2 linked regions of the Homo sapiens genome follow. The gene in region 2 interacts genetically with the main gene of each other region. Each region holds a gene or a part of one and is shown on either strand. Other genes may lie near its edges.

Evidence for each region.
Region 1: of CAP1 (region 2) and ATG10, changing one enhances a phenotype caused by changing the other (phenotypic enhancement), as found in Homo sapiens cells (one large-scale study listed by BioGRID).

What each region holds. Positions count from the first base shown.
Region 1 is NC_000005.10:82,051,912-82,055,733, reverse strand, and holds part of ATG10 (ubiquitin-like-conjugating enzyme ATG10), read right to left. Parts: intron 503-3,822; exon of another isoform or gene 400-502; intron 1-399. UniProt on the Homo sapiens protein: E2-like enzyme involved in autophagy. Acts as an E2-like enzyme that catalyzes the conjugation of ATG12 to ATG5. ATG12 conjugation to ATG5 is required for autophagy. Likely serves as an ATG5-recognition molecule. Not involved in ATG12 conjugation to ATG3.
Region 2 is NC_000001.11:40,067,959-40,071,780, forward strand, and holds part of CAP1 (adenylyl cyclase-associated protein 1), read left to right. Parts: intron 1-1,731; coding exon 1,732-1,916; intron 1,917-2,200; coding exon 2,201-2,324; intron 2,325-2,471; coding exon 2,472-2,554; intron 2,555-2,877; coding exon 2,878-3,021; intron 3,022-3,491; coding exon 3,492-3,575; 3' UTR 3,576-3,822. UniProt on the Homo sapiens protein: Directly regulates filament dynamics and has been implicated in a number of complex developmental and morphological processes, including mRNA localization and the establishment of cell polarity.

The sequences.
Region 1 (3,822 bases), on a different chromosome or scaffold from region 2:
ATAATAGCATGTGTTTGAGAGAAAAATTACCCAAAGTCTGCAATTTCAAAATGATCTAGCCATAGAGATAAAAACCAAAACTCTCAGGATATTCAGAGAACACGGAGCTGCACTGTGTGTACTAAATATAGCTCATTAAATGAGGGTAACTGCTCTATTTTGTATTTTTCAATACCTGAGCCCTGGTCACATAACCTCCTCTTAAGGGAACATAAAATTTAGTAAAATTCTAATAACAATGCAAAATACATCTCCTTTGACATTAAAAGAGGTGAGTCAAAAATTCGTGTGCACCTATGTTATAAAATCTAAATAAATTATCTGGTCTCTTTCCCAATTAGTTAAGATAAAGAGATATGTCACTTTCAATAATACTTATAATTTGAGGAATTTACTTACATTTTAGGTAATTTCTAATACCATTTTTTTATTATCGATACGGAAGTACGCTGGGTTTTTTGCTCTATATTTGGTAGTGGTGATTTTTTTTCAGTATCAATCTTCTCAGTCAAGATTAGCCTTGAAAAATTAAATATAGAGTTTTTTGGATTTTGATTTCCCTTTAAAGACTTCCACAGAACTAGATGTTTCTTCTACTTTGTTTTAATTTAAGGCAGAAAAATATGTTTTGTGCTTCACTGTTGAAGGATGCTTTTTTAGAGACAAGCAAACTCAAAAGCAGGAGAACCACCACTCTTGTCAGCCCTGCAGTCCACCCAGCCCAGGAAAAAACGATGTCAACTCAAATTCCCCCTTGGCAATGAAGTTTTCCTGACCATTCCAATTAACACTCCTCTCTAGCTTCCCTGCATTCTTTTTGTACTTATCATAGCTTACACTTGAACATTTAACTCTTCTTTAATTTTTTAACATTTGTTAGTTTTATTTCTCCCACTAGATCATAAGCTCAGGGCCTAGGCCTCCATCCTCTAAGGGATGACAAGGTCTTTACAGGATCCAGATTCCATCCCACATAACAACCTGATCCAGAAAGAGTCTGAAAACATCCTGGACAAGCATGAGAGGATTTAAAAACAAAGGGAACCTTCAAGTTTATCCAATTCAAGCCTCTCATTTTAGAGATAAGAGGGTGAAGGACTAAAGCACTTCTAAGAAACTTGTCTTACACTAATTAGTTGGAGGCAGAGCAGGAAGTGGAAAGCGGATCTCTTGACCTGAGTATTCTTTGTAGTACACTAAGCAAATTCTGCAAGAGAGCAGGACCATGGCTTATTGACTCTCGTGGACTGGTGTGGGCCAGTGCTTTGCACTTCAAGTAACAAACTCAAGCCACTCAAGTGTGGTCTGGGGACCAGCCACAGCATAAGCTGCGAGCTCATTAAGACAGACAGGCAGAATCTCAAGCCTCACCCCAGACCTCCTGATTCTGCATTTAAAACATAATCCCCAGGTGATATGTATGCACATTTTGGAAGCACTGAGGCATGTACTGCAATCCCTGACTCAAAGAGACAGCAAACTGACTACATTAACAATGGTTCTCAATCCAAGCTGCACATTAGAACCACCTGTGGAGTTTTCAAACTGTTGCTGGTGTCTCACCTCAGACCAATTAAGTCAGAATCTACCTAGCAGATTCCAGCACAGCAGCCAGAGTTGAGAACCACTGCACTCAATTCCTTGGAGACCCTCTTTTGAACTCAATGAACAGAGTCAATCAGGTAATCTGCAGCTACCTCAGGAGAGAAGTCCACAAACAACTCAAGATCTTCATGAACACCATAGCTCATCTGGAGTTCTCCAAATGCTAAAATCACCTCTGTTAATGCTCTCTTCTTGGAGCTTTGACCATGCTGAGACTGCCTTTGAAGTGGTCTTTACTACTGCCCGAAAAACTAATTTCTGGCAACTTGGCCAGTCTTGACCTGGCCCTCTGAAACTGCCAGTAGTCTTGTAACTTAAAATTGCTCCAAGTCCAACTACACTTCAGCTATTAGGTCTCCTTGCTGTCCATTCACCACAAAGCATGATGCTTCACTCTGTCACTGTAGAAGAATAATTAATAAGAAATGTCCAGCTGTTATAACCCAAACAACTTTCATTATAAAGAGAATACTTCCTCACAGCCAAAACTCTTCCAGTTATCTAAATAGAATGCCCTTCACCTAAGACCAAAATAAGAAATATTTAAATGAGAAAAAAACCCCAAATATGCTAGATGAAAATATAGGAGAACACATATTTTTTAATATGATAAAAACCCAGAAGTCATAAAAGACTGGTAAATTCTACGGCATGCAACGAATTCTTAACACCATAAAGTCAAAAGACATATCAAAATGTGAAAAAGCATTTGTAGCTCATATCATAGAAAAGAACTAATTTTTTCAATATAAAATAGCTTTAATTTCCTCAAAATATAAATAGTTCCACCAAATCAACAGGAAGGGGTCCAATAGCCCAATAAGAAAATGAGCAAAGGATACACAGATAGTTTACTAAAGAGGAAATACATGTAGATAAAAATATGTTCAATGTTAGCCATAAGAAAAATGCAAATTAAAAACTGTGATAACATTTTTTACCTATCAGATTGGCAAAGATCAAAAAGTATGAAAGGGAATGTATAGACAAAGACATGGATAAAACAAGCAGGCACTCTCATACATTGCTGGGGCAGGGGAGTTAAAATTAGCATAAGATCCCTGAAGAGCAGGTTGGCAAAAACTATCAAAATTTAAAATGCACACACCTTGGATCCAGAAATGTTACTTCTAATAATTTACCTTATGGATATAGTCACATATGTAGTAAATAAAATTCATACAAATGATTATTAACATATTATTTTAATAGTATAAGGTTGGAAACAACCTAAATTTCCATCAGTGAAGATTGGCTAAATAAATTATTTTATGTCCAAATAATGGGATAGTATGTAACCACAAAAATAATGAATGAGTTCTGTAAATATTGAGTAATGACCAAGGCTGACCATTAAGTTATTTTTTAAAGCGCAGAACAGTATGAATATATGCATGCTACCATATGTTTAAATGTAACTGTACAGGCTATGTGTACACTGAATATATCCGGAAAGATACCCAAGACCATGGTATCACTGGCAACCTCTAAAGGTTTGAGTAAGGAAAGTAGAAGGGTTAGAAAGGAGACTTAACTTTTTAATGTAAAACCTCTTTTGTGCCTATAAATACATGGCACTTCATTTTAAACAAATAATTAATTGCCCTTTGCACATATGCCTCCAGGCCACCACATTGCCAGAGTAGATTCCAATCTTAAACTTCTAAGGAGAAAATGTCCTATAGGTCTTATAGAATCCAAGAGAGACAAGCAAGTTTTCTAGTGTAGTGCCGATTGCATTTTGGATGGAGATCTAAGGATTTCCTGATAGAACACGTTTGGGTCTGTTTTAGTACAAGCTGTCATAGGGCTATGCCACCCAGCAAGCTATGTTATGCCTGCTGGAATCCAGCTAACAAAATAATTATAGGGCTTTTGTTGCTGAGTTTAACAAGATCTTCTCTAGACACATCTAAAAGAAAATGGGTGGTTATCTAAGGGTCTAAGCTCTACTTCAGAATAAGGCATTTTATATACGACTTCAACTCAAGTTAACTGCCCAGAATGATCAACTGCAGGAAGGGCTTGACAAGTCCATAAAGGAGGAAGACAACTGAAGTTTCTAGGTCAATGCCAGCACTGATCAAACAAGGCCTTCAAGGTCAGTGGAGCCCTGAGGAATAGGTCAAACCTAGGCCACAGATCTCAAGTGACTGTTCTTTGCTGCTGTAGAAGATCAAACCAATACTATCAGTAGCTGTTCAAAACTGATTAACC
Region 2 (3,822 bases):
CCCTCTTGTGCCAAGGCACAGAGCTGGCGGTTTTCCCCAGAGCTTTTTCCGTGGCACCACATGGCCTCTGGGAAGGCATTGTGTTAGGGAGTTAACTTCCTCAGAAGATGCATACTGGTTACATGGAAAATTTGCATGAGAGTGACCTAATGTTGGTATAAAGTAGATACCCTTAACACAGCTGGTGGAAGTCTGAGTTGTCCAGCCACTTCTAGGAATCTATGATCATAGTAGCTAAAAATGGTGTAACAACCTAAATCCAACTGTAAGAGAAATGGCTAACTACCACATGTCCTCTTGATGAAATGTTTTTTATTTTTTTATTTTTTTTGAGACGGAGTTTTGCTCGTTTCCCAGCCTGGAGTGCAATGGCGCGATCTCGGCTCACCGCAACCTCCACCTCCCAGGTTCAAGCAATTCTCCTGCCTCAGCCTCCCGAGTACCTGGGATTACAGCCATGCGTCACCATGCCTGGCTAATTTTTTTTTTTTGTATTTTTAGTAGAGATGGGGTTTCTCCATGTTGGTCAGCCTGGTCTCAAACTCCTGACCTCAGGTGATCTGCCCACCTCGGCCTCCCAAAGTGCTGGGATTACAGGTGTGAGCCACCACGCCCGGCCTCTTGATGAAATGTTGTGCCACCATTACATGTTTTTCTACAGTGAACCATGTAATGTTTAAGAAAAAAAAAATCTAGTATGTAAATTACAACCACAAGGAATGGTGGAGATAAAAAGGCCATTCAGTATTTGTTATACAGTTAACATAGATCTGGCCATGTTCAAAGCGAGGCGTGTGTCAGCCTGCTGTGGGAGATGATGAATTATTTTTCCCTTAAAACATAAAAGAAATATATTTTTACTTTTATTTTTTATTTTATTTTATTTTTTTTGAGATGGGAGTCTCACTTTGTTGCTCAGGCTGGAGTGCAGTGGCGTGATCTTGGCTCACTGCAATCTCTGCCTCCCAGGTTCAAGCAGTTCTCCTGCCTCAGCCTCCTAAATAGCTGGGACTACAGCACCTGCCACCACACCCGGCTAATTTTTTTGTACTTTTAGTAGAGACTAAAAATACACCATGGTAGCCAGGCTGGTTTTGAACTCCTAACTTCAGGTGATCCGCCTGCCTTGGCCTCCCAGAGTGTGGGATTACAGGCATGAGCCACAGCGCCTGGCCTAGAAAGATATTAAACTACAGGTTAACATGAGAAAGTTTTTAAGTGTCAATAGTTGAACTAAATTTGTTAACAATCTGTATGATTATAACCAACAAAACCAAATATATGTAGAAAACAATATTGTAGAGTTGCAAATGCCAACACTGACTGAGGAGGTGGGGGAAGTAGGGTTAGCTGTGGGGAGTGAGGGTATTTTTTTCTTTTCCTTTTACCAAATTTTCTTTACTACCACTCATTTTTCTTTATTGCTTTAAAAATTATATATTTGTGCACATACATTTGATATGTCTTTCTAGACATAGAGGATAAGGATTTACATATCCTTATCCTCACCCACAATATACACACATTCCATGTTGTTGTTAATGGAACCATATAATTTAATCTTGGGGAGAAGAGAAATGATAAAAGTACTTTTCCAAAACTGCTTGCAAGAGAACATCTCAAAGGCTCTGGTTTTGGCTTTGAATTTTCTGTTAAGGATGTTTAACATGACGATAGCAGCTCAAAGGTCTGGTATGAAGGACAGGAACAAGGTAGCTGTTGTTCTTACAGCCCTGAAACATGTATCTGATGACATGAAGACTCACAAGAACCCTGCCCTGAAGGCTCAGAGTGGTCCAGTACGCAGTGGCCCCAAACCATTCTCTGCACCTAAACCCCAAACCAGCCCATCCCCCAAACGAGCCACAAAGAAGGAGCCAGCTGTACTTGAACTGGAGGGCAAGAAGTGGAGAGTGGTGAGTTAAAAATACCTAGACAGGGGCAGGTATTTTTATTATTTTATTTTTTTGAGATGGAGTTTCACTTTGTCGCCCAGGCTGGAGTGCAGTGGCGCGATTTCGGCTTACCGCAACCTCCGCCTCCCGGGGAAAAGGAGTAGGAACAGGAGGTTAAATGGAGCTTAGCTAGATGAGGGCAGAGTTCTGGCTTCAATTGCAAGAACAAAAAGTTTGGGATAGCCTGGTTATTTTTTGTTCGGTGTGTGCTTTGTGATGAGAATCCTGGGATCTCTCTCTAACAGGAAAATCAGGAAAATGTTTCCAACCTGGTGATTGAGGACACAGAGCTGAAACAGGTGGCTTACATATACAAGTGTGTCAACACGACATTGCAAATCAAGGGCAAAATTAACTCCATTACAGTAGGTGAGTCTTTGTCGCTGTCCCACGCAAGCCCCGTCCCAGAGCCCGAGAAGGCTAATACCATTTTACCTACCCTATCCTTAAAGATTCCTAAATGTATATTACTTTCCTTTAAAGTTACACGTTGACACACTCCCTTTCTTCTCCTAGATAACTGTAAGAAACTTGGCCTGGTATTCGATGACGTGGTGGGCATTGTGGAGATAATCAACAGTAAGGATGTCAAAGTTCAGGTAACTCGATATTTTGGCTCCTTCTTTTTGTCCCTGAGGAATTAATTCAAAGAGACATGGTAGACCCACAGATGTTGCTTTGGTGGGAATCTGATTCTACAAAGTCTGTAAGCTGAGCTGCTTTGGACGTGGCAGAAGAAGGGTTGGCTCTTCAAGCAAGTTCTTTTCAGGACCCATCCCAACCCACCCGAGTATCCAGTGTCTTGCGCATCTGTGAGCTTTTCATGTAGTTGCTGAGTCACGTGAAACAGGAAACCTTTTCCTGCGACTTACTGTTGTCCTTCCCAACCACTGGGACTCAGTTCTCTTTGTTTACTCTGCAGGTAATGGGTAAAGTGCCAACCATATCCATCAACAAAACAGATGGCTGCCATGCTTACCTGAGCAAGAATTCCCTGGATTGTGAAATAGTCAGTGCCAAATCTTCCGAGATGAATGTCCTCATTCCTACAGAAGGCGGTGACTTTGTAAGTTTCTTGATCTCTTTAGTATGATGTTAAAAACAGAAGGGACTGAAGATTTCTGGCATTGAAGAAAGCTATTTTATGAACATTCTGCACTGAGCAGGTAAAAACCCAATAATGCACACCAAAAGTACACAGAAATGAGGTAGTCCCATGTAGTGGAGCCCCAAAGGTAGGTGCTTTCTGCCTAAGTGGAGCTCAAGGTAGCAAAAAATAATGGGGATGAGCCATGGCACCTTGTCAGGCTGGTGCTATAAAGCCATATGTACTGTTATTTACACCCCATAGACTTAATAGTCTGTCCAAGATCGCTGAACACTAGAACATAGCATGGCTCTGTGGGTTTGTCTCTTGCTACATTGTACCGTGCTCCTGGGGTTAAGTGGAAGCAAGCATTGGGAGAAATGTGTGAGATTTAGCCCCAGCTGTTCTTTAGCTCAGATTTAAACCTGCTGTCTCTTCTTTATTTGCAGAATGAATTCCCAGTTCCTGAGCAGTTCAAGACCCTATGGAACGGGCAGAAGTTGGTCACCACAGTGACAGAAATTGCTGGATAAGCGAAGTGCCACTGGGTTCTTTGCCCTCCCTTCACACCATGGGATAAATCTGTATCAAGACGGTTCTTTTCTAGATTTCCTCTACCTTTTTGCTCTTAAAACTGCTTCTCTGCTCTGAGAAGCACAGCTACCTGCCTTCACTGAAATATACCTCAGGCTGAAATTTGGGGTGGGATAGCAGGTCAGTTGATCTTCTGCAGGAAGGTGCAGCTTTTCCATATCAGCTCAACCACGCCGCCAGTCCATT